2 linked regions of the Homo sapiens genome follow. The protein of the gene in region 1 interacts with the protein of each later gene in a pairwise test. Each region holds a gene or a part of one and is shown in the gene's direction. Other genes may lie near its edges.

What was found.
Region 2: the proteins of SDHB (region 1) and PIK3R5 interact in a two-hybrid assay, tested with the Homo sapiens proteins (one study listed by BioGRID and IntAct).

What each region holds. Positions count from the first base shown.
Region 1 is NC_000001.11:17,022,926-17,034,529, reverse strand, and holds part of SDHB (succinate dehydrogenase [ubiquinone] iron-sulfur subunit, mitochondrial isoform 1 precursor), read left to right. Parts: intron 1-1,384; coding exon 1,385-1,470; intron 1,471-5,793; coding exon 5,794-5,930; intron 5,931-6,664; coding exon 6,665-6,781; intron 6,782-10,455; coding exon 10,456-10,557; intron 10,558-11,604. UniProt on the Homo sapiens protein: Iron-sulfur protein (IP) subunit of the succinate dehydrogenase complex (mitochondrial respiratory chain complex II), responsible for transferring electrons from succinate to ubiquinone (coenzyme Q).
Region 2 is NC_000017.11:8,877,084-8,888,687, reverse strand, and holds the end of PIK3R5 (phosphoinositide 3-kinase regulatory subunit 5), read left to right. Parts: coding exon 1-517; intron 518-987; exon of another isoform or gene 988-1,004; coding exon 1,005-1,167; intron 1,168-1,466; coding exon 1,467-1,592; intron 1,593-2,082; coding exon 2,083-2,211; intron 2,212-2,365; coding exon 2,366-2,459; exon of another isoform or gene 2,460-2,470; intron 2,471-3,504; exon of another isoform or gene 3,505-3,904; coding exon 3,905-3,981; exon of another isoform or gene 3,982-4,122; intron 4,123-6,806; coding exon 6,807-6,900; intron 6,901-6,975; coding exon 6,976-7,058; intron 7,059-7,670; coding exon 7,671-7,783; intron 7,784-7,901; coding exon 7,902-8,049; 3' UTR 8,050-9,772; downstream 9,773-11,604. UniProt on the Homo sapiens protein: Regulatory subunit of the PI3K gamma complex. Required for recruitment of the catalytic subunit to the plasma membrane via interaction with beta-gamma G protein dimers. Required for G protein-mediated activation of PIK3CG.

The sequences.
Region 1 (11,604 bases):
ATGCACCTGTAATCCCAGCTACTCGGGAGGCTGAGGCAGGAGAATCGCTTGAACCCGGAAGGTAGAGGTTGCAGTGAGCCGAGATCGCACCATTGCCTCACACCCATAATCCCAACACTTTGAGAATCCAAGGCAGGAGGATCACTTGAGTCCAGGAGTTAGAGACCAGCCTGGGCAACATGGCGAAATCCCACCTCTACAAAAAAATACAAAAATTAAGCTGGATGTGGTGGCACATACCTGTAGTCCCAGCTACTGGGGGGCTGAGGCAGGAGGATCTCTTGAGGCTGGGATGCGGAGGTTACAGATCTGAGATCGTGCCACTGCACTCCAGCCTGGGTAACAGAGCAAGACCCCGTCTCAAGAAAAAAAAGAAAAAAAATGAAATACAGATAGTACTAAAGGAAATGACGTATTTTTAAGTATATTTTTAATCTCATGCATAGAAAATTAGTGAGTGGAATGGGGGCAGGGTGGCAACCAGAAAATAGATTTGTGGAGCACTTACTGTATGCCAGGTACTATGAAAAATTACATATTTTTATGTAATTTTCACAGTAACCCTGTGGTGTAAATATTAACTCTACAGATAAACTGAGGTTCAGAGAGTAATTTCCGTAGAATCACAGTTTCTGCATGATGATTATTATAGTTAAACTATGATTTATATGTCAGATGCTGCTGTAAAGATCTCGTGTGTATTAACTCACCTCCAGCAATCCTGTGGGATGCAGGTGCTGCTCTCTGCACTCAGTGGATTAAATGCCTAGGCAGAAATTAAATCATTTGCCTGCAAGCTGGTAAGTGGCTCAGCCATGGTGCAGACCAGTCTCTTGGCTGCCAGGCCGGCACTCCAGGTCCCACGCCCAGGGATGCTCCGCTTAGTACCATGTCACTGCCCTTGTATGTTCTAGGAGGCTCACAGTGATTTGACTGGGGGACTGTGAGTGATTGGGTGTCTTTTATTCTCTGTACTATGTCTTCTCTTATGGTTATGTATTATTAATTACTATTTAAAACTATTGTCTACATCCTAAAAATCAAACTAAAATTTGAAATAAATTATTTGGAAAAACTTTGCAGGGAGCTTCAGAAGTAAAAAACAAAAACTCGGCCACTGTATGGAAGTTGTGTCATACTTGTCTACTACTACTTTAGCTTTCCATTTCCTAGAAATGTGTTTGCACTGTGATCATCAAAATAGAACTGTGCAGTACTTAAAATGTAAGAATCTGCAAAAACAAAACTACAGAACAAATTCCGAAGGTGACCTGAGAAGACCAAATGGATAAGCTAATACATCCAGGTGTCTCCGATTATATTATGATAAAGTGTAGGGAGGTTGAACGTTACATAAATACCACTGGATATTTTTCTTTGTTAGATGTGGCCCCATGGTATTGGATGCTTTAATCAAGATTAAGAATGAAGTTGACTCTACTTTGACCTTCCGAAGATCATGCAGAGAAGGTGAGCATTTCATTCCTGTTGGGCTCCAGATACTTGTGGTCTTCCAAAGAGGCTTGGGCTGGCCAAAGCTGATAGAGACATCTGGAAAACAGCTGCAGCTCTCTGCTGGGTGAACTTGCTGTGCAACCTAATTCCTTTTCTTGGGTAAATGCATCCAAAATTCTAACCATGGTGCAAGTTCTGGTTTCTGAGTTTACTTTCCTTCAGGAGCATTCTATCCTGTGGTTACTGCATCTGGCGGTCCCTGTGAGCTGCTCCACGCTTCAAGGCCTAGCTAGGACCTGCTGGCTGGCACCTTCCATGCTGCTGAGCTCTTTTATTAAGGGAGCAGTGGAGAGTTTCTGTCTGGCACTTATGCTTGTCCAGCAGGGGAGATGTGTGAGTCTCCCTCAGCTCCCAGCATGACATGTCCTTGGTAGCTGTGTTCTGGATTGGCTGGTACAGTGTCTCCCTCAGCATGTGGTTACTTGTGCTGCTGGTGCCACATGAGCCCATTTGAGGCAGTGTGCAGACTAACATTTTCTACATGAATAGCAATGTATTCATTTTCTGTATTAGAAAAATATAATTACTGCCGGGTGCGGTGGCTCACACCTGTAATCCCAGCACTTTGGGAGGCCGAGGCGGGTGGATCAGCTGGCGTCAGGAGTTCGAGATCAACCTGGCCAACATGGTGAAACCTTGTCTCTACTAAAAATACAAAAATTAGCCGGGCGTGATAGCGGACGCCTGTAATCCTGGCTACTCGGGAGGCTGAGGCAGGAACCCGGGAGGTGGAGTTTGCAGTGAGCCAAGATCACGCCACTGCACTCCAGCCTGGGCAATAGAGCGAGACAGTCTCAAAAAAAAAAAAAAGAAAAATATAATTACTAATGATGGTATAATAGGGATATAAGTGGTTTTTTAATGTGAATTTAAGCAAAACAAGTTAAAGAAAACCCAAGAGATACTTTAAAGAAAGTTGATTCAGGTGGTTCTCAGGTATAGCAAAAATTGCACAGGGTGCAGTGAAGACCGACTGGCCTGATGTCCGTGGAGCCAGACTGTGTGCCCGGCTCTGTTCTGTGCACTGGACATGAGGTAGATGACTGTGCTTATTATCTACCTTCAATTTAAAGGTGAGGCCCAGAGAGGGTAATGGACTTCCACAAGGACACATAGAGAGTGACTTGAGAGCCGGGAGTCAGCCAAAGCTGTCAGACTCCAGACTCCAGATCTGCTCTCTCAGGCACTGACTTGGCTTGGAACACCTGGGATAAAACAAAAGCAGAGAGTAGCTTGATTCTGTGAGGACACTGAGCTTTTTTCTAAGAAAACCTTAAAAAAAAAGGAAAAGCCAGTATTGATACCGGCCCATGGCTTTTTATCTGTTCAGCTGTACATTTCAAGCATTTCAAGTCTTTTAAGACATCTGTTTTGATTCAGCTAATCTTATTTAGCGTTGCAAATGCTGATGGATATTATGATAGTTCGGCTGAGTCCTGCTGTTCAGGGAACATTCTGCGGCAGTTAAACAGCAGCCTTCCCCATTAAGTCCTGGCAACACAGGAAAGGTAGATGCTTTTCAGTAACCTTTCCCTGTAGGACTCTTTCAGAACCAAGAACATAAGGTGTGACCCATCTGGACTAAAAAAAATAAAGCAGAATTGTATCAATTGCTACTCCTTTTTATTCCCATCTTGTTTTTCTTATTTTTTTTTTAATTCCCATCTTGTAAGAGAATTCCCAGGGAGCCTTTTTGAGAGAAAGTTCATTGGATTTATTTTTTTAATTTTTATGCCATTTCTTGTAAAAGCAAACTGCTCTAGTTGGATGCCAGGTATACATAAATGTATTGATAATATCCAGTCTCTTGGGGAACTCTAGGAGTATTTGCTTAAGACACATCTTTGGGTTCCCTTACACTCTTTCTAAGATTTACAGGAGAAGGAGAGTCTTACTGTCTTTTCTAGTCTTATGAAAGTGATAACCGACTGGGCGCAGTGGCTCACGCCTGTGATCCCAGTACTTTGGGAGGTCTAGGTGGTAGGCTAGCTTGAGGCTAGGAGTTTAAGACCAGCCTGGGAAACATAGACTCCCTTTCCATTAAAAAAAAAAAAAAAAAAGGTGAGGCCAGGCATTCAGAGGCCGAGGCGGGCAGATCACAAGGTCAGAGTTCGAGACCAGCCTGACCAACGTGGTAAAACCCCGTCTCTACTAAAAATACAAAAATTAGCCAGGTGTGGTGGCGGGCGTCTATAATCCCAGCTACTCAGGAGGCTGAGGCAGGAGAATCACTTGAACCCGGGAGGCAGAGGTTGCAGTAAGCCGAGATCGTGCCACTGCACTCCAGCCTGGGCGACAGAGCAAGACTCCATCTAAAAAAAAAAAAAGATGATAACCAGTGCAACTTTCTCAAGCAATCAGGTTTCTCTGACCTAATGATCTTCAAAAAACAGCTTCAGAGGACTGGCACTAGAGGTTTAGAGTACATAATCATTTTTAAATTCCAAAACACCCAGGAAATTTCCATATACAGGAAGTAGGTCCAGGCTAAGAAAATTCTCATGTCGGGGTCCTGGGTCAGCACGTTTTTTGTTTAGTTTGCTTTGCTTTGCCTCAGTTTCATATTAGTTCATTCTTCTCCTCTTTGGAAAGTCCATGCTGAGTCAGCTTTTGTGGATTTCATAGCCCCAGGGTACTATGCTGCGTATTTTATGAAGACAATAGAAGAAGCCTTACCTCTGTCAAGTGTAGTGGCTCAGGCCTGTAATCCCAACACAGTGGGAGGCAAAGGCAGAAGGATTACTTGAGGCCGTGAGTTAGAGACCAGCCTGGGCAATATAGTGAGACACCTGCTCTACAAAAAACAATTATTTTTTTCTTTTTTTTGAGATGGAATCTTGCTCTGTCACCCAGGCTGGAGTGCAGTGGCGCGATCTCTGCTCACTGCAACCTTCTCCTCCTCAGTTCAAATGATTCTCCCGCCTCACCCTCCTGAGTAGCTGGGATTACAGGCACCCACCACGACTTATATTTTTAGTAGAGACAGGGGGTTACCATGTTGGCCAAACTGGTCTCGAACTCCTGACCTCAAGTGATCTGCCCACCTCAGCCTCCCAAAGTGCTGGGATTCCAGGTGTGAGCCACTTCACCCAACCTACAAAGAATTTTTTTGAATTCGCCGCACATGGCGGCATGTGCCTGTAGTCCCAACTACTCAGGAGGCTGTGGTGGGAGGATCGCTTGAGCCCAGAAGTTTGAGGCTAAAGTGAGCTACAGTGAGCTATGACTCCACCACTGTACTTCAGCCTGGGTGACACAGCAAGACTCAGCCAAGAAAAAAAAAGAAGAAGAGCTATCTCTTAATAATCTGTATCCAGGTCACTTCAACCTTAAGATGACCAAGACAATGTTGATTTACTTTACTTTTGGGTATTGTGTCTGTTAGATTTGTGTTCAAATAACAGTGGCTTTAAAAAATCTAGGTTTCCAGGCGTGAGCCACCACACCCACCCCTACTCAGGAGGCTGAGGCAGGAGAATCACTTGAACTGGGGAGGCGGAGGTTGCAGTGAGCCAAGATCGCGGCATTGCACTCCAGCCTGGGCAACAAGAGCAAAACTCCTTCTCAAAGAAAAAAAAAAAAAATAGGCTTGACGGGTGTGTGGTGGCCCAGACCTGTAATCCCAGTGCTTCGGGAGGCCAAGGCAGGCAGATTACTTGAGCCCAGCAGTTCAAGCCCAGCCTGGGCAACATAACAAAACCCTGTCTCTGCAAGTCTCGTCTCTACAAAAAATACCAGAAAATTAGCTGGGTGTGGTGGGCTACTTCTGTAGTCCCAGCTACTTAGGAGGCTGAGGTGGGAGGATCACTTGAGCTCAGGCATTGAGGACTGCAGTGAGCTGTGATTGCACCACTGCACTCCAGCCTGGGTGACAGAGTGAGACCCTTTCTTTAAAAAAAAAAAAAAAAAAAAAAAAAAAAACAGGCTGATTTTTCTTCAAAACACGTGACACATGGAGCTAGAACTGCTGTGGAAACTCCATGGTGCCAGCAGCGCCCAGGCCTCTGGCCTCCTCCAGTGCCATACTTGGCATGTGGCTTCTAACCTCAAGGTTGCCACATGGTCATAGAGTAGTTTTTGGAACTCAAGCCATTAGAACCACATTCGAGGCAGGAAGAAGGAAGGAAGGGAGAAAAGCCAACAGGCACCTCTGTCAGAGGAATGTTGCATGTCAGTGCTGCCCCTGATGGCACAGCAAGGAGGATCCAGAAGAAAGTATTTGGGGCAGGACTGATTCCGGATATGGGTGAGGATGTGTTAAATGTGTGTCTCTTTCAGGCATCTGTGGCTCTTGTGCAATGAACATCAATGGAGGCAACACTCTAGCTTGCACCCGAAGGATTGACACCAACCTCAATAAGGTCTCAAAAATCTACCCTCTTCCACACATGTATGTGATAAAGGATCTTGTTCCCGTGAGTTTCTGCATCTCTCTGGTTTTGTTTTTATTTGCATGGGGGGCAGTGCTATGTGTGTTACGCTATTAGTTTTTCAGGGCAGGATTTGTTTGAGTATTTAAGGCTCCTCTTCTAGTCAGATAGTAAATAGATGGGACTGTTTCCTATATTATGGCAGGAGGAGGACCACAGTGTCACTGAGAGATTAGGAAAATCTCCAGATCTGAGACAGTGTGGCCAGAGTTTAATTAAAGAATTTGAATGGCAGAAGATAAACGCCTAGAAAATCCTCCAGCAGCTCATTTGGTGAGGTTTGTTTGAGAATAATGGGGCACAGAATTTTAGAATTGGAACATTCCCAGAAATGAATAATTTGGCCATAACTACAAAGAAATCATGTGGAAAATGCCAGTTGGGAAAGCAACAGCTGTTTATGAGTCCCACTTTAATTTCTACCTCCCTATATTTGAACACCTTTGCTGACGTGGTGTTTTCAAGGGCAGAAAGGACTGTGGGATTGGCAGGTTTCCCAAGTAGGTGAGGGAGAGGTTTCCTAACCATGCTTAACATTGTGACCATTTTTCCTTTTGTAATCTTTGCATATATTCATGACAAAGGAAAAGAGTCTGGCTTCTGCCTGGCATAGAGTGGACGAGTAGTCAGTGTCCAAGAAATGGGGTAAATAAAGCTGAGGTGATGATGGAATCTGATCCTTTTCTTCTTCTTCTTCTTCTTCTTCCTCTTAACCACAGGATTTGAGCAACTTCTATGCACAGTACAAATCCATTGAGCCTTATTTGAAGAAGAAGGATGAATCTCAGGAAGGCAAGCAGCAGTATCTGCAGTCCATAGAAGAGCGTGAGAAACTGGTCATTAGTCCCTATTTATTGTTTCAATCTGAAGAATTTATTGCAAAGATGATTGCCAGGAGTGTGGCTTGGCAGGGAACATAAGCTGATGCAAGCCATTTAGTGTATTCTGGAGAGGAACTGGCACAAGGGTGGGGCACTCATCCTCTTAGGGCCGGGTGAGTAGTGTGAACCCGTGAATGGCCCAGAGTGGACCAAGGAGCTAGAGCCCTGTGCCCCGCCTGCAGGGGCGGGTGGTTGCTGTGTGGCTACTCCATCTTTTTCAAAAGAAACCAGTATGTAAATTGCCTGGGCTTTAAAAAGTGACCACTAAGTCAGAACTGTTCCCTCACTGGGGGCAAAATGAAACACATATGCTGGCCAGTTGTAACTACCACCGTCCTGCTTTACAAATGGGAGTGAAATGTTAATGGCAAAACAGAGTCATCGATATTCTTTCCTGACACCATACTTCTGGTGATCTGTGGGGTGGGATTATTCCTGGCCTGCTCACTCTCTGGGAGTTGCCATTCCTGTGTACAAGCTGTAAAATCTTAAAGCGGAGGCATCATTATCAAGTTTTCAGTCTTTCTTCTTCTACACTACTTCTACTCCTCTGCGAAGAAGTCTTCTCTGATTTGCATACTCCCTGCATACTTGTGGACGTGAGGTAGGAAGGGGACCAAATGGAGACAGAGCCCCACCTGCAGGTCTGCACAGGGCCAAGGGCAATGGCTGTGTCTTCTTCCTTTCTGGATCCCTAGGCCCTGGCGCATGTTATTTTATCCATAAATATTAGTTATGTAAATACTGTAAAAATATATATAAATTTTTTAAAAGGCCAGATGCAGTGGTGCATTCTGATAGTCCCAGCTACTCAGGAGGCTGAGGTAGGAGGATCACCTGAGCCCAGGAGTTTGAGAGTCTGAGAGTTTGAGGCCAGCCCGGGCAACATAGCCCAGGTTTTGTCTCTAAAACATATACATATATGTGAATATATGAAAAGTATCAGTTGTATGAATGAATAAATTAATTCTACCTTTTGAGACTTGGTAAATATTTAGCATCCTCTCCTGTTGCCCATAAAACGTTAAGAAAGGGGAGTCCGGCCAGGTGCAGTGGCTCATCTGTAATCCCAGCACTTAGGGAGGCCGAGGTGGGCGGATCACTTGAGGTCAGTTGTTCGAGACCAGCCTGGCCAACGTGATAAAACCCCATCTTTACTGAAAATACAAAAATTAGCTGAGTGTGGTGGCTCACACCTATAATCCCAGCTACTCAGGAGGCCAAGGCAGGAGAATCTCTTGAACCCGGGAGGTGGAGGTTTCAGTGAGCCAAGGTTGTGCCACTGTACTTCAGCCTGGGCAACAGAGCAAGACTCCGTCTCAAAGAAAAAAAGAAAAGAGAAAAAGGGGAGTCCTAGTAAGTGTGCCCAGTCTGTCACCATCAAGATAGTGAGGGTCAGCACAGTGGCCTGCAAGTCAGAGTAAGCCTGGGATGAGACTTCAGAGCTGCTCTTCTCAGACTGCAGCTCTGCTCCTCAGTTTCTACCTCCCAGAGTCTTGTGCATCCCAGAGTCCAGGCTGAACCGGGCCCTCTGGCCCAGCGAGTCCTTTGCATTCCTAGGCAAGGCTGGTGCGTAGCTAGTGAACATCTCCCTGATGTGGTATTATTAGGGATTGAAGAGTTCCCCTGAGCATGTTTGGTTTTCTAGATACAAGTTGAGTATTCCTTATCCTAAATGCTTGGGTTTCAGTGTTTGGGGTTTCATATGTTTTCAGATTTTGGAATATTTGCCTTACACTTACTAGTTGAGCACCCCAAATCCGAAATCTGAAATCCATGCTCCAGTGAACATTTCCTTTGAGCAGCATATTGGTGCTCAAAAAGTTTCAGATTTTGGAACATTTTGGATTTCAGATTTTCAGATTTGGGATGCCCAACCTGTAATAGAAATTTACTCATTTACTCATTTACATACCAAACATTTAACATTTTTTGGCTTCCTTAAATTAGTATGCTGAACTTAATAAATAATTGGAAAATGTGGAGAAATTTATGTATGTATTTATTTTTAATTGGGCAGCCCCCAAACCAAAATAGGTTCAGAGAGGCTCCATCATTTTTTAAATAAGCTATAATTTTCAGCCTGGGGAACATAGGGCGACCCTGTCTCTACAAAAACTTTAAAACTTAGCCAGGCATGGTGGTATGCACCTATAGTCCCAGCTACTCAGGAGGCTGAGATGGGAGGATTGCTTGAGCACAAGAGTTCCAGGCTGCAGTGAACTGTGATTGTGCCACTGCACTCCAGCCAGGGGCACACAGCAAGACCCTGTCTCAAAAAAAAAAAAAAAAAGAATTTATAATTCCACCACCAAAACATAATCTCTGTTAATATTTATAGTTTCCTTTGTTTTTTGTTTATTACATTATATTTTTATGTAGCTGGGATCAAAATGTAAATATGCTTTTATATCCTGCTTTTTTCACTTATGTTATTGTGAGCATTTTCTTCATATTCTTAAAATTGTTCATAAGCATTAACTTACACTTTGCTTTCTACTGCTTCAGATGTATGCACCATGCGCCATAAAACCATTTCACTGTTGCTGGACAATGAAATTGTTTCCAATTTTTTACTGTTAGAAATAAGGCTAGATGAACATCTTTATCCTTCAAGTTCTGCCCAAAACATTCTAATTTCTTATTACAGATTTTTCTAGGAGTGGGTTAAAGAATATGACTATTCTTAAGGCTCTTAATCCTGTGACCTTATGCCTTCTAGACCAGTGGGGCCAGTTGACACTCCCACCAGCTGTCTGGACATAACATAGATTTGGTTGAAGACTCATGGTTCAATCACAACCATCAGTTCTGTCTCATCTGTTCTCAACTGTCACTTCAGGTGTCAGTGGGCCCCTTTCATTTTGCTGTTTTTAATCCATTTCTGTTGTTTCCAAACTCAGAAAGTCCGGTTTGTGTTTGGGACTTGTTGGGCAGATTGACCCAGTGTGGCAGGTGTGAAAGTGCAGGAAGCCAGAGCCAGCTGCCGGGGCCACATCCTGGTTCTGCTGCCTATAGTGGCACGTCCCTGGGCACATGGCCTAACTCACTCTCCTCGCCTTGGTTCCTTACCTGTAAGTGGAACTTGCTGGAGTCACCTCACAGGATTACTGTGATGATCAGTTAAGGAAAGCGTGTAAGGCGCAGGGCCTCCGTCAGGATTGGCAGTGGCAGTCACTGGGGATGATGTTGATGTTCCCAGTGAAAACCTGAGGGCCCTTCTGCTGAGCCCAGGGCAGAAGCAGCTACAGACTCTTGCTGCTTCAGCCCCTAGGCTTTTGAATCTCTCCCGTCTTGACCTCATTCCAGGAAGCTGGAATTTATGGGAGTTGTTTTTGTGTTCTTGTTTTCTATTTCTTTTTTAGACAAGTGAGAGGTTCTTGTTTATTAAAGGGAAAGTGCACTATACGTGGATTTAAGAACCCTGGGCAGATGTTTACATTTCACTTGCAAGATCTTTATTAATCTGCTAAATATCTGCAAATCACCCCTTGGATTTTGCTAAGAAAATTCACATGCAAGTAGGCACTTTGTTCATGCACTGACCCCAAAGGTAACATTTAATCAGCTGAAGACATAGCAGAGTCTCTCCCGTCACAAGCTCCTGCCTCTCTTTTCTCCCCATACAGGACGGGCTCTACGAGTGCATTCTCTGTGCCTGCTGTAGCACCAGCTGCCCCAGCTACTGGTGGAACGGAGACAAATATCTGGGGCCTGCAGTTCTTATGCAGGTGAGGTGCTCCTTAATTGCTTTAAGAGAAATTGAAACTCAAGCATCCAGAAGTCCAAGAGGACAATAGATTGCTGTAAGCCAGCCATTCTGAGGGGCCTGGTTTCCTTCATTGCCATCCAGTCCAAACAGGGTAATTGGTTGCATTGTATTCACTTGCTTTCGGTAAATCTGGGGCCTTGTCTGCAAATTGCCTTTGTTTCAGTGCAGTGAGGGTCACCCCAAAGGGGTGCAAACCATGCCTTGCAGATGTTTAAAATGTATTTCCGTTTGCCTGGTGGTCAGAGGCTCCCCCTCTCCCTCTCATAGGATTTGTAACATAAGACTTGTAGCGAGCAAGCAGGGGAGAAAGCAGTGTCTTTGAAGGGCAGCTGCCCAGCTATGAGATTGGAAGCTGTTTCCCAGCTAATGAAAGCCTGGATTTAGGGGTTGCTTAGAAAGAAAATAGTATTGATGTTCACTGCAAAGAAAGTCACTGTCTTTGTTCCCAGAAAGCTTGTGCTTTTTTAGATACGTGCTTTTCACAGACTCTAGGCAACTCAAAAACCAACTTCTCTTTCTCATTTTCCCACAAAAAGAGAAGTTACAGGTTTGTGTGACCACATGAGCAATATTGATTCCCAGCCATGTGAAGATTGGATAATGAAGTACACTCATACTTGTCACTTTTGCCAGCTGCTCCGAGTTGGGGATGTAGAGGTCCTCTAAGTAACACTGCTAGAGCAGGCCTATGGTCATGTGATTAACTCGTTTCAGCCTGCTGATCTCAGGCTGCTGAGAGCGCTGTGTAAGTTCAAAGAATCATTAAGTGGGACAAATACTATCTGTAGACAGGTCTGTTAAATCATTCCTTTACTCAGAGACAGCAAGTCCAGCATGGGTAGGTGCCATGAAGACAGATAAGAGTTATATGATACAGTCCCTGCCTTCACCAAATTATAAGCTGGGTAGGAAGCTATTGAGCAATGTGAAATAATTAGGAGATGATACCCAGTGTGTATAATTAAGCACCCGGGTACCAGGTGCAGTATGGATCAAAGGTTTGCAG
Region 2 (11,604 bases), on another chromosome or scaffold:
CGGGGCCGGCCCTCTCGCGCCATCTGCTGACTTCCTTTGTCTCAGGCCTCTCTGATGGCATGGACAGCGGCTACGTGGAGGACAGCGAGGAGAGCTCCTCCGAGTGGCCTTGGAGGCGTGGCAGCCAGGAACGCCGAGGCCACCGCAGGCCTGGGCAGAAGTTCATCAGGATCTATAAACTCTTCAAGAGCACCAGCCAGCTGGTACTGCGGAGGGACTCTCGGAGCCTGGAGGGCAGCTCGGACACGGCCCTGCCCCTGAGGCGGGCAGGGAGCCTCTGCAGCCCCCTGGACGAACCAGTATCACCCCCTTCCCGGGCCCAGCGCTCCCGCTCCCTGCCCCAGCCCAAACTCGGTACCCAGCTGCCCAGCTGGCTTCTGGCCCCTGCTTCACGCCCCCAGCGCCGCCGCCCCTTCCTGAGTGGAGATGAGGATCCCAAGGCTTCCACGCTACGTGTTGTGGTCTTTGGCTCCGATCGGATTTCAGGGAAGGTGGCTCGGGCGTACAGCAACCTTCGGTAAGAGCCGTAATGCGGAGCATCCCTCTGCCCTGGGTAACAGGGTTGTTGTGCTGGTGGAATCTGGGGCCTGAGGCTTAGGGCCCCAGAGGAACCAAAAGTTCCCTTATTTATTTTTATTTTATTATTATTATTATTATTATTATTATTATTATTATTATTATTATTTTGAGACAGAGTCTTGCTCTGTTGCCCGGGCTGGAGTGCAGTGGCATGATCTCGGCTCACTGCAACCTCTGGCTCTCCAGTTCAAGCGATTCTTGTGCCTCAGCCTCCCGAGTAGCTGGGATTACAGGTGCACACCACCACACCTGACTAATTTTTTTTTTTTTTTTGTCTTAGTAGAGATGGGGTTTCCCTCTGTTGACCAGGCTGGTCTTGAACTCCTGGCCTCGGGTGATCCACCCACCTCAGCCTCCCAAAGTGCTGGGATTACAGGCGTGAGCCACCATGCCCATTCCCCTTCTCACCATCTTCTTCTTGCCAGGCGGCTGGAGAACAATCGCCCACTCCTCACACGGTTCTTCAAACTTCAGTTCTTCTACGTGCCTGTGAAGCGAAGTCATGGGACCAGCCCTGGTGCCTGTCCACCCCCTCGGAGCCAGACGCCCTCACCCCCGACAGACTCCCCTAGGCACGCCAGCCCTGGAGTATGTCCCCAGCCTGGGCCAATGGTCGGGGAAAGTAGAGTTCTGGCTACCTGAAGGAAGCCGATTGGAAGTCATGGAAAGCAAGCACCTGTGTTGACAGGGCACCTCCCCCTGCCTGGCCCTCACTCCCTGCACTTGGACATGACATTTTGCCATATGACAAAGACTGAAAGTTGTCATACTTCCCCAAGGGCAGGGAGAAGCTCAGCATGGGGCTGCAGGTGCCATCCAAGGCCCTGGAGCTAGGATGGGCAGGCCTCCTGGGGAGCTGGGATGATGACTCTTGTTCTTTGCCCTAGGAGCTGGGCACCACCCCATGGGAGGAGAGCACCAATGACATCTCCCACTACCTCGGCATGCTGGACCCCTGGTATGAGCGCAATGTACTGGGCCTCATGCACCTGCCCCCTGAAGTCCTGTGCCAGGTAAGTGGCCCCGTGGTTGCGGAACAGGGTCCACTGGCTGCAGTCACCCAGCCTCACTTAGAAGGCCCTGGATTTAGGGAATCAGGCTTGAGGCCCCCATGGAGGACCTGGGCCCTCTTGGAAAAGATCAGGGAGTGTGGGTGAGAAGCAGGACTGAGCCTGAACTCAGGACACTGAGTGTGAGAGCTGGGGTCACTGCAGTGATGGAGGAGGGCCCTCAGAAGGGTCCGGGGGACCTCAGATTTCAGCCCCCTTCCTCAACTCCCGCCTTTGTCTGGCTAAGCCAGAAGCCTCCCTGGAGGCCAGTGGGTCAGGTGAGGGGCATGGAGGCTGGGCACCGGCCCTCCCCTGCTTCCTGCTTCCACCTCACCAGCTCCCCCTGACTGGCTGCCTCTATGTCTCTCTTCTCTCTTCCTCCCTAATTCTTGCTCCTTCTTACCATCTATCCACCCACCCATCTGGCTTGGCTGCCCCTTCCCTCTGGCCACAGCAGTCCCTGAAGGCTGAAGCCCAGGCCCTGGAGGGCTCCCCAACCCAGCTGCCCATCCTGGCTGACATGCTACTCTACTACTGCCGCTTTGCCGCCAGACCGGTGCTGCTGCAAGTCTATCAGACCGAGGTAAGGCCTCCCTGCCCCGAACCGCCTCTTCCCCACCTGCCGGGCCTGCAAGGCCCCACCCCTGCCCCGGGAGAGCCAGCAGGTCTATGCTGGAGGAGCCAAATGGGCCCCTCCAGGAGGTTCACACTGATGTACATGCTCCTGCCCTCTCCAGCTGACCTTCATCACTGGGGAGAAGACGACAGAGATCTTCATCCACTCCTTGGAGCTGGGTCACTCCGCTGCCACACGTGCCATCAAGGCGTCAGGTGGGTACTGCCTGAGCAGAGACAGACGGTGAGGCGGGGCCTGGGACGCGAAACGTGGAGCTCTGTGGAGGTGGGGTTACCTGGGAGGTGGGGCCATGGGAAGGTGGGGTTGCACAGGAGGTAGGCCCCTGGGGAGACGGGGTTACCGGGAGGTGGGGCCATGGGGTGGCTGGGTGACCCGGTAGGCGGGGCCCTGGGGAGGCAGGGATACGGGAGGTGGGGCCACGGGAAGGTAGGGTTACCCAGGAGGCAGGGCCATGAGAGGGCGGGGTTACCTAGGAGGCAGGGCCATGGGGAGGCGGGGTTGTCCGGTAGGTGGGGCCTTGGGGAGGCAGGGTTACCGGGAGGCAGGGCCATGGGGAGGCGGAGTTACCCAGGAGGCGGGGCCCTGGGGAGGCGGGGTTACCCAGGAGGTGGGGCCATGGGAGGGCGGGGTTACCCAGGAGGCGGGGCCATGGGAGGGCGGGGTTACCCAGGAGGTGGGGCCATGGGAGGGCGGGGTTACCCAGGAGGTGGGGCCATGGGAGGGCGGGGTTACCTAGGAGGCAGGGCCATGGGGAGGCGGGGCCCTGGGGAGGCGGGGTTACCCAGGAGGTGGGGCCATGGGGGGGCGGGGTTACCTAGGAGGCAGGGCCATGGGGAGGCGGGGTTGTCCGGTAGGTGGGGCCTTGGGGAGGCAGGGTTACCGGGAGGCAGGGCCATGGGAAGATGGAGTTACCCAGGAGGCGGGGCCCTGGGGAGGCGGGGTTACCCAGGAGGTGGGGCCATGGGAGGGCGGGGTTACCCAGGAGGCGAGGCCATGGGGAGGCGGGGTTGCCTGGTAGGTGGGGCCCTGGGGAGGCAGGGGTACCGGGAGGCAGGGCCATGGGAAGGTGGAGTTACCCACGAGGCAGGGCCCTGGGGAGGCGGTGTTACCCAGGAGGCAAGGCCATGGGGAGGCGGGGTTGCCTGGAAGGCAGGGCCCTGGGGAGGCACGGTTACCGGGAGGCAGGACCATGGGAAGGGGGGTTACATGGGAGGTCGGGCCAGGTGGAGGCAGGCTTACCCAGCAGGTGGGCCCTGGGGAGGCAGGGTTACCCAGGAGGTGGGGCCCTGGAGAGGCAGGACCCTGGGAAGGTGTGATCACAGCGGAGATGGGGCCCTGGAGAGGCAGGACCCTGGGAAGGTGTGATCACAGCGGAGATGGGGCCCTGGAGAGGCAGGACCCTGGGAATGTGTGATCACAGCGGAGATGGGCCCTGGAGTGATGGGGTCACTGAGGAGGTGGAGATCCCCAGAACGTGGAGCCAGAGAGAGAGGCAGGGCCTTGGTGAGACAGATCCCTAGGGAGTCACGGTCCATGTGGTAGGGGATGGGGAGGTAAGGCCCAGGGAGGCAAGGCCACTGCGTTCGTGAGGAGCCGGGGAAGCCAGGGGTAGTGAAGGGTCTGTCTGTGTGTGGCACAGGTCCTGGCAGCAAGCGGCTGGGCATCGATGGCGACCGGGAGGCTGTTCCTCTAACACTACAGATTATTTACAGCAAGGTAAGACCCGTGCTGGGGCTCCTTCCCCTCCAGGATCTGCTGCTGATACTTCCTCCGCCAGAGCTTGGACCCAGAGCTGGACTCGTGTGTTCCTGGGCCCCAGTCTTTACGCTGGAAGGCTGCAGCAGGCTCCCCTGGATGCTGAGAGAAGCAGAGAAGGGAAGGAGTGGATATCTCTGTGCTTCTTGGCCTCCAAAGCCTCTCTCCCACCATGTTCTCTGCCCCCACCCGAATGCGCTCAGCAGCAGCCCAGGGGTAGGGGTCTGCTGGGCCTGGCTACAGGGCTGGGGCTGAAAGGGGGAAAGGGAAGCCTTCCAGAGGCACCTCAGGGAGAAGCCAGGGTCTCGGGGGGCCAGTGTGCCTGGCAGGCTGCATGCAAGATGGGATTGGCGTGAGAAAGGAGTGAGGAGAGCTGTGGGGAGGTGGAGGGCTGTCCATGACATGCCAGAAGACATGAGTTCTCTGAGCAGGTCGCATCCCAAGGTCCAGGCTGAGGGAAGCTTGGCCTCACAGGTGGGCTTCTTCCTTCGGCCATTCCAAAGATATCCTCTTAGCACCTGCCCATGCTGCCTCTGTGCTGGGCAGGGGAAAAGAGGGGTTGAGCAGGGAAGCCTAGGCCTCACTTTAGCTTGTCTAGAGGAGGGAGACAGACAAGAAACGAGGAAACAAAGAAATAGCCAAGATAATTCCAGAGAGCGGCAAGTGATGACAAAGCAATAAAACAGCAGATGGACGGTGGTGTTGGGGCTGCAGTGCGTTTGGCAGTGAAGGAGGTGGGCAGGAGGCACCGACACTCACTGTAGCCACATGCCAGGTGCTTGCTAGACGTCTTCCACAGCCCAGGCACTGTTCTAGGCCCTGGAGCCTTCCTAAGAGTGAACAAAGGACAGACGTGGTCCCAGGAGACCTGCTGGCCCCCTGGAGTGGGTGGTAGGCATTGGTTCGATGATGCACACGATGTAAAATTACAACTGTGACACATGGATGAGGAGAGGGACACGGGATGTTCCTAAGTGGCAAACCGAACCCAGTCAGGAGAGTTAGTAGTGAAGGCTTCCTTGAGAAGGCACCTGAGTTAATATTGGAGGGAAAACCAGGAATTAATTAGGCTGAGAAGAGAGGTGAGTGCTCTCACAGCAGCAGAAACTGCATGTGCAAAGGCCCTGTGGTGGGAGGCAGTGTGAACACCTTGAAGCACTCTGAAAGAAGACCCCCAGGCTGGAGCAGAGACAGCTGGTGGGAACATGATGCTGAGGTGAGGCTAAAGAAATGGGGGACCAGCATACCAAGAGCCTTAATTGCAATGAAAGGAGTTTTGTGGTTTTTTGTTTGTTTTTTTGAGACATAGTCTCGCCCTGTTTCTCAGGCTAGAGTGCAATGGCTCAATCTTGGCTCACTGCAACATCCGCCTCCCTGGTTCAAGCAATTCTCCTGCCTCAGCCTCCTGAGTAGCTGGGTAGCAGGTGCCCGCCACCACACCCGGCTAATTTTTTGTATCTTTAGTAGAGACGGGGTTTCACCACGTTGGCCAGGCTGGTCTCGAACTCCTGACCTCATGATCCACCTGCCTTGGCTTCCCAAAGTGCTGGGGTTACAGGCATGAGCCACCACGCCCGACCCAATGAAAGGAATTTTATCCTAGTCCTAAGAGCAGTGGATATCCATTAAGGGGGCTTATGTTTGTGGTGGGGCTGGGAATGCCTGTGACATGATTATATCTGAGGCTTGGAAGCTCCCTCTGGCAGCTCTGTGGAGGACAGATAGGAAGGGTCCACAAGTGATGCAGGAAGGCCAGTTAGGAGGCTGTTGCCATGGTCCAGAAGAGAAATTAGGGCAGCAGCCTGCACTAGGGTAGTGGTGGCAGAGCTGGAAAGGAATGGGAGACAGATGTGAGTGATGTAATCAGCAGGGCCCATGGATGGGTTAGGAAAGGAGAGGCCAGACTCCTGGAGTCACTCCTCTGTGACTGGCAGCACCATCTTCTCTGGGGGGACCACAGGAAGAGGCCGGGGTCCAGTTGGGGAAGAGCTTGAGTTTGGGTCGGGACATATTATTGAGGTTGAGAGGCCTTGAGAGGTATAAGGAGACAGTGAGAATAGACGGCTGGCTGAACGGGCCTGACTTTGTGGTGAATATGAAGATGGGTGGACAGCTGCTAATGGAAAAAGGTCACGGAGGAGACTCCTGAAGGGGGGAAGCAGGGAATACAAAGAGCAGAGGACCAAGGGGAGAACCTTGAGCCCTTCATGATGTAATGGCGGGCAGAGGGCAGCGATCCAGCAAAGCAGAGAGGCACCAGCCAGAGAGGCGCTAGAAAAACCAGGAAGGTGCCATCACGAAAGCCCAGGAGAGGTTTTCAAGGAGGGGAGAGCAGTGAACTGTAAGGTCAAGTAAGCTGAGGACCAAGAAGTGTTCTTCGGTTTAACAACATGGAGGTCCCTGATGACAGAGACATTCACACAAAGACTTGAAGAGGGGGTTCAGGTCTGGCTCTGCCAGAAACAGCATGTCTGTGGGCCCAACCCTTCTTCACTCTGGGCCCGGCAGGAGAGCTTCAGGACCACCCCTGCAGGTGCTCTCAGCTCTTGTACCTTTCAACCTGGTCACAGAGGCTGCTGACCCCTAGACCAAGCCAGTGACGTGAGCTCTTCCCTGGAGTCATCCAGGTCTATCCAGGGTGGTACAGGGGCCCTGGTGAATAAGAGAGGGCTTTCTGGGGATATGCTAACTAGAGGCAACCCCCTGTCACTGATGGGCCTTCAAAGAGAAGGCAGCAGGCACCGGGGCCTCTGGACTCAGAGGGTCTGGCTACACTGCATTTCCAGGGGGCCATCAGTGGACGAAGTCGCTGGAGCAACCTGGAGAAGGTCTGTACCTCCGTGAACCTCAACAAGGCCTGCCGGAAGCAGGAGGAGCTGGGTGAGTGGGGTGGTCAGTGTGGGGTGTGCAGTAGGGAGGTGCTCTGAGCCTGGCCTGAGTGTCCTTGCCCCTCAGATTCCAGCATGGAGGCCCTGACGCTAAACCTGACAGAAGTGGTGAAAAGGCAGAACTCCAAATCCAAGAAGGGCTTTAACCAGGTACGGGCTTCCCTCTCCTTCCAGCCATACCCTCAAGAGACTTACTGGAGCGTGCATGTGCGTATGTGTGTACGTGTGTGTGCACATGTATGTGTGTGCATGTGTGCACATACACACCCGTGTGTACATACTTGTGTGTGTGTGAGAGAGAGAGGAGAGGTGGGGGAGGAGAGGCAGGGTGAGGGGTATGATTTGGGGATGCACACAGGTGTGGAGTGTTGCGGGGTGTCGGGGAGGTAGGGGTGCCCTGTGAGAGGACGCGTGTATGTGGAAAAGTTGTGGGGTGGGTGCCAGGAGAGTCCTAAGACTCTGAGACCAAAGAAAGCAGGCTCTGGATCAGGGGACCTGGGGCTGCTCCGGTGAGGGCAGCAGGCAGGGCAATGTCTCCTCAGGGGGCACTTGCTTCTTCCAGATGCTGGAGAGGAGGCAGGGGCTGATGGAGGCCTCAGGCTCCCTCCTGTGACCTGGCCATTAACCCTGGAGCGCAGTCAGACAAACCCCTGCCCTCCCACACCCCTAGAAGTGGATGGGCAGTTCTGAGAAAAGGAACTGCCAGGGGCTGGCAGTGTTGGATGGCCAGGGATTTGGGGCTGACCTGGGCCTTCCTTCCAGATTAGCACATCGCAGATCAAAGTGGACAAGGTGCAGATCATCGGCTCCAACAGCTGCCCCTTTGCTGTGTGCCTGGACCAGGATGAGAGAAAGATCCTGCAGAGTGTAGTCAGGTAGGAAAGGGGGGTCCTAGGGAGGGGAGCAGTTTCTGCTCCCACCAACCCAGAGGCCTGGAAGGAGCTGGAAGGATGGGGGCCTGCTCTGATCCCTGGCCCCTGCCCTGCTGCACAGATGTGAGGTCTCACCGTGCTACAAGCCAGAGAAGAGCGACCTCTCCTCACCACCCCAGACGCCTCCTGACCTGCCGGCCCAGGCCGCACCTGATCTCTGCTCCCTTCTCTGCCTGCCCATCATGACTTTCAGTGGAGCTCTGCCCTAGTGTGGGCCCAGCGCCAGACTGGACAGAAGCCCTGGGGCAACCTCCTCGGCCACCCCTCCAGGACAGTCCCTCTCTGTGGAGAACTGAATGGCCCTGTGCAGAGCCATAGTCCCACTGTGGGTCCTGCAATGAGCAGGGGCTGGGAGTAGAGGGTTTCTGGGGCCTCAGGGTTCTGGGAAAGCAACAGCTATCAGAGAGAGAAGGGCCAGACCCCATAGCCTCTTAGATTCCTGGCAGTAGAAGGAGAAGGATGGGTAAATTGACCTCTGAAGTCCCTGACCATTAGCATGGTCTAGGATCCTTTCTAGAAGGAAGATCTGAGGCTCTGGTGCTCAGGGGGATGGCTTGGGCCTTTTCTCTCAACCTTGGCTGAGCCTACCCCTTACTTTGCCAAAGACTTGAGGACCCTGTATGTCTGGAGTTCAGTCCCCTCCTCTGTGGGGCTCAGGTGATTGAAATGTGGATGAAACATTTCTCTACTTCAAGACCACCTCTCCCTGCAAACACCACACACACATGGCATGCATGTACGCACATGCGCACACACACACGCACACACCTCAATAATTTCTCTCAAGTTTCCTGAGTCTCCAGAAAAACAGCACTAACGCTGGACCTGTCTACTCTCAGAACCCGGCACAGATTCTCTCTTGATCTCCTTTTGGAATCTGAGATTCTTAGAAGACAGGATAGGGTTAAATTTAGTAGCAGCTCAGTTCTAGCTAAATCACTAGAGGAAGTTAATTAACTTTAAGCCTTCATTTCTCCAGCACTAAAATGGAGTGGAGAGTTGGGGTGGAAATAAGACATCCTTAAAAGGTTAAATTGTCTGCAAAGCACCTAGCCCAGTGCCGAGCTCCCAGTAGGTGTTCAGTAAAGCTTAGTGCCTGACTTTCTGAACACTGATTCCTCCTGTTTGGAGTCACTGGGATACTCTCATTGCCGTTGGGATGTTCCTCACTCCTTCCCAGTTCGTGGCTGAGGCAGAACCCAGACTGAAGAGGGAAGAGACATTCCAGAGGAGGATTGCCTTCGTCAGGGTAAGGGGTGGGCTGCTCAGGGGCCCTACCCTTCACCCCCTTCTGTATCAGATTGGCCCTCCCACTCCCATCTCACTCTGCGTGTACAATCTTCCATATCCGCAAGTTCACTGGCACTCTTCTGGCACCTGGGCAAGATCCCAGAACAGAGGATGGAGTGACTGGCCTCACAGAGCTTAGTGCCCGACTCAGGGGAAATGGGACTGGTGCATGGGAAATGGTCAGCCTAGGATAGGACACGAGAGTCTGAAATTCAAAGCAACCAGCTTGAAGTGGTTTGAGAAGCTGGAAGCAAACATGGGCTAGAGAGATAGGGCAGAAGTCAAGACGAGGATCTGGACTGATGTGGAGAAAGTAGCCACGGAAGCATGAACTGTATCCTGCACAAAGTCCCTCTTCCCCGCCTCCTAATTCATTATGCCCAAAAGGCCTTACGTGAAATTCCAGCCCAGAGTACTCATGACTTGAGAGACGTGGACAGAGCCAGCTTCTACCTTGCCTGGCCGTCTCTCCCCTGTCTTAATGTCTGCTCTTGCTCTAAGCTCCAGAAGAGTGGCGGGCCATGTATCTTCAATATGTTTTTGCTGTATGGGCAGGTTGTCTTATTATGTGATCAACAGATGTCCAGGAACTAATGAGTGGAATTTAATATTATTGTCAAATAAAACTTGATTTGTCCTATATTTAATGACCAGTAGTTACTTTGCTGCATGACCCTGCTAGTTGGACAGTTTATATAAATCATTTTATTTATACCAGAAAGAAGCTTCATAGGGGATTGTTTTATTTCTCTTTTTGTAATTTTCCACCCTATAGAAAATATATTTGGGTGAAAATTTTCCCCAATACTGTTCTGCTTAAGCCTCATCATACTCACTGACCCACAGAACAAAAATTCCTACACCTAAGGACTCAGCATTTGGGGTTTCCTGTGCTACTTCACTTGAGAAATATATACCCATATATCCATCTGTTTCCTGTACCCCAAGCTCCAGGGAGGGGACGGGCCTGAGGCCGTTGCTGCGGATGGGTGGCACAGTGGATCCTGGACCTACCATGCAGCTGAGAGGAGGGGAAGAGAGCTCAATAATGGCCCTTTGGATCTGGGACTGCCTTTAGACTTGGGTGATAAGGAAAGAGAGAAGAAGAAGTGGAGGGATGGTAGAGGACACCTGTGGCTTGGGAGAGGGAGGTAAGTACCAGGTTGCCAGAACACTATTCAGGATGGAGGGAGAAAGAACTGTGAGCTGTTCCAGCTCTGCATCAGCTGGCTATTGCAAACAATGAAGCATACCTTCAATTCAGGGAACTAAGTCTCCGATCATTTGTTCTTGCTCATGCATCTGGAGGACATCTAGGGACCACCTGATCTAGGCTGGGCTCAGAGTGGCTTGGCTCCAAGCTGCAGGATGGGTGCAGATCTGCTTCGTTGGTCTTTCAGACACATTGGACCAGCATGAGAGGCAAGCAGAGACACGCGATGCCTCCTAGGAATGGAACCTGGAACAAGAACAATATTCCTTCTGCCAATAATTGGCTAACACTGATGAAGCACATCAACCCACAGACTTAATAAACCCAGCAAATTTTGCACAGGAATTTTGACACAGGAATCTCCACACAAGAAAAAAACAAAATCACATGAGAAGTGCACTTTACCTTTGATGTTCTTTCCATAACTCCAGTCTAATCAAGAGTAAAAAAGATCATATAAACCCAGACTATGGGACCAGATAACCTGACCAGTACTCTCTTACTGTCACAAAAAATAAGGAAAGACTGAGAAACAAAAAGAGATGGAGTAAACCTGAAAAATAAGCAGTAGACACTGGCTTGTATCCTGAAACATTAATCCAAAAACTGGTAAAATCCCAATACAATCTGGAGTTCAGTTTTTTCTTAAACACACACACACACATACACACACACACACACACCCCTTACTGTCAAACTTCTAAAGAAAAAAAGGTAATAAGAAAATACTAAAGACAGAGGAAAATAATACACTTTATCTTCAAAGTAGCAACAATTAAACTGAGAACTCTCTCTTTCAATAGAAACAATGGAAGCCAGAGATGATGAAATGATATCTTTAAAGTATGAGGGGAAAAAACAAACCTACTAACCTGGAATCACACACCCAGAATTGTCTGATAATACTTTTTTAAAAAAAACTTATAAACTGCAGCGGTCGGGCGCAGTGGCTCACACCTGTAATCCCAGCACTTTGGGAGGCCGAGGCAGGCAGATTACGAGTTCAGGAGATCGAGACCATCCTGGGTAACACGGTGAAACCCCGTTTCTACTAAAAATACAAAAAATTAGCCGGGTGCGGTGGCGGGCACCTGTAGTCCCAGCTACTCAGGAGGCTGAGGCAGGAGAATGGCCTGAACCCGGGAGGCGGAGCTTGCAGTGAGCCGAGATCGCACCACTGCACTCCAGCCTGGGTGACAGAGCGAGACTCCATCTCAAAAACAAAACAAAACAAAACAAAAAACTTATAAACTGCTCACAA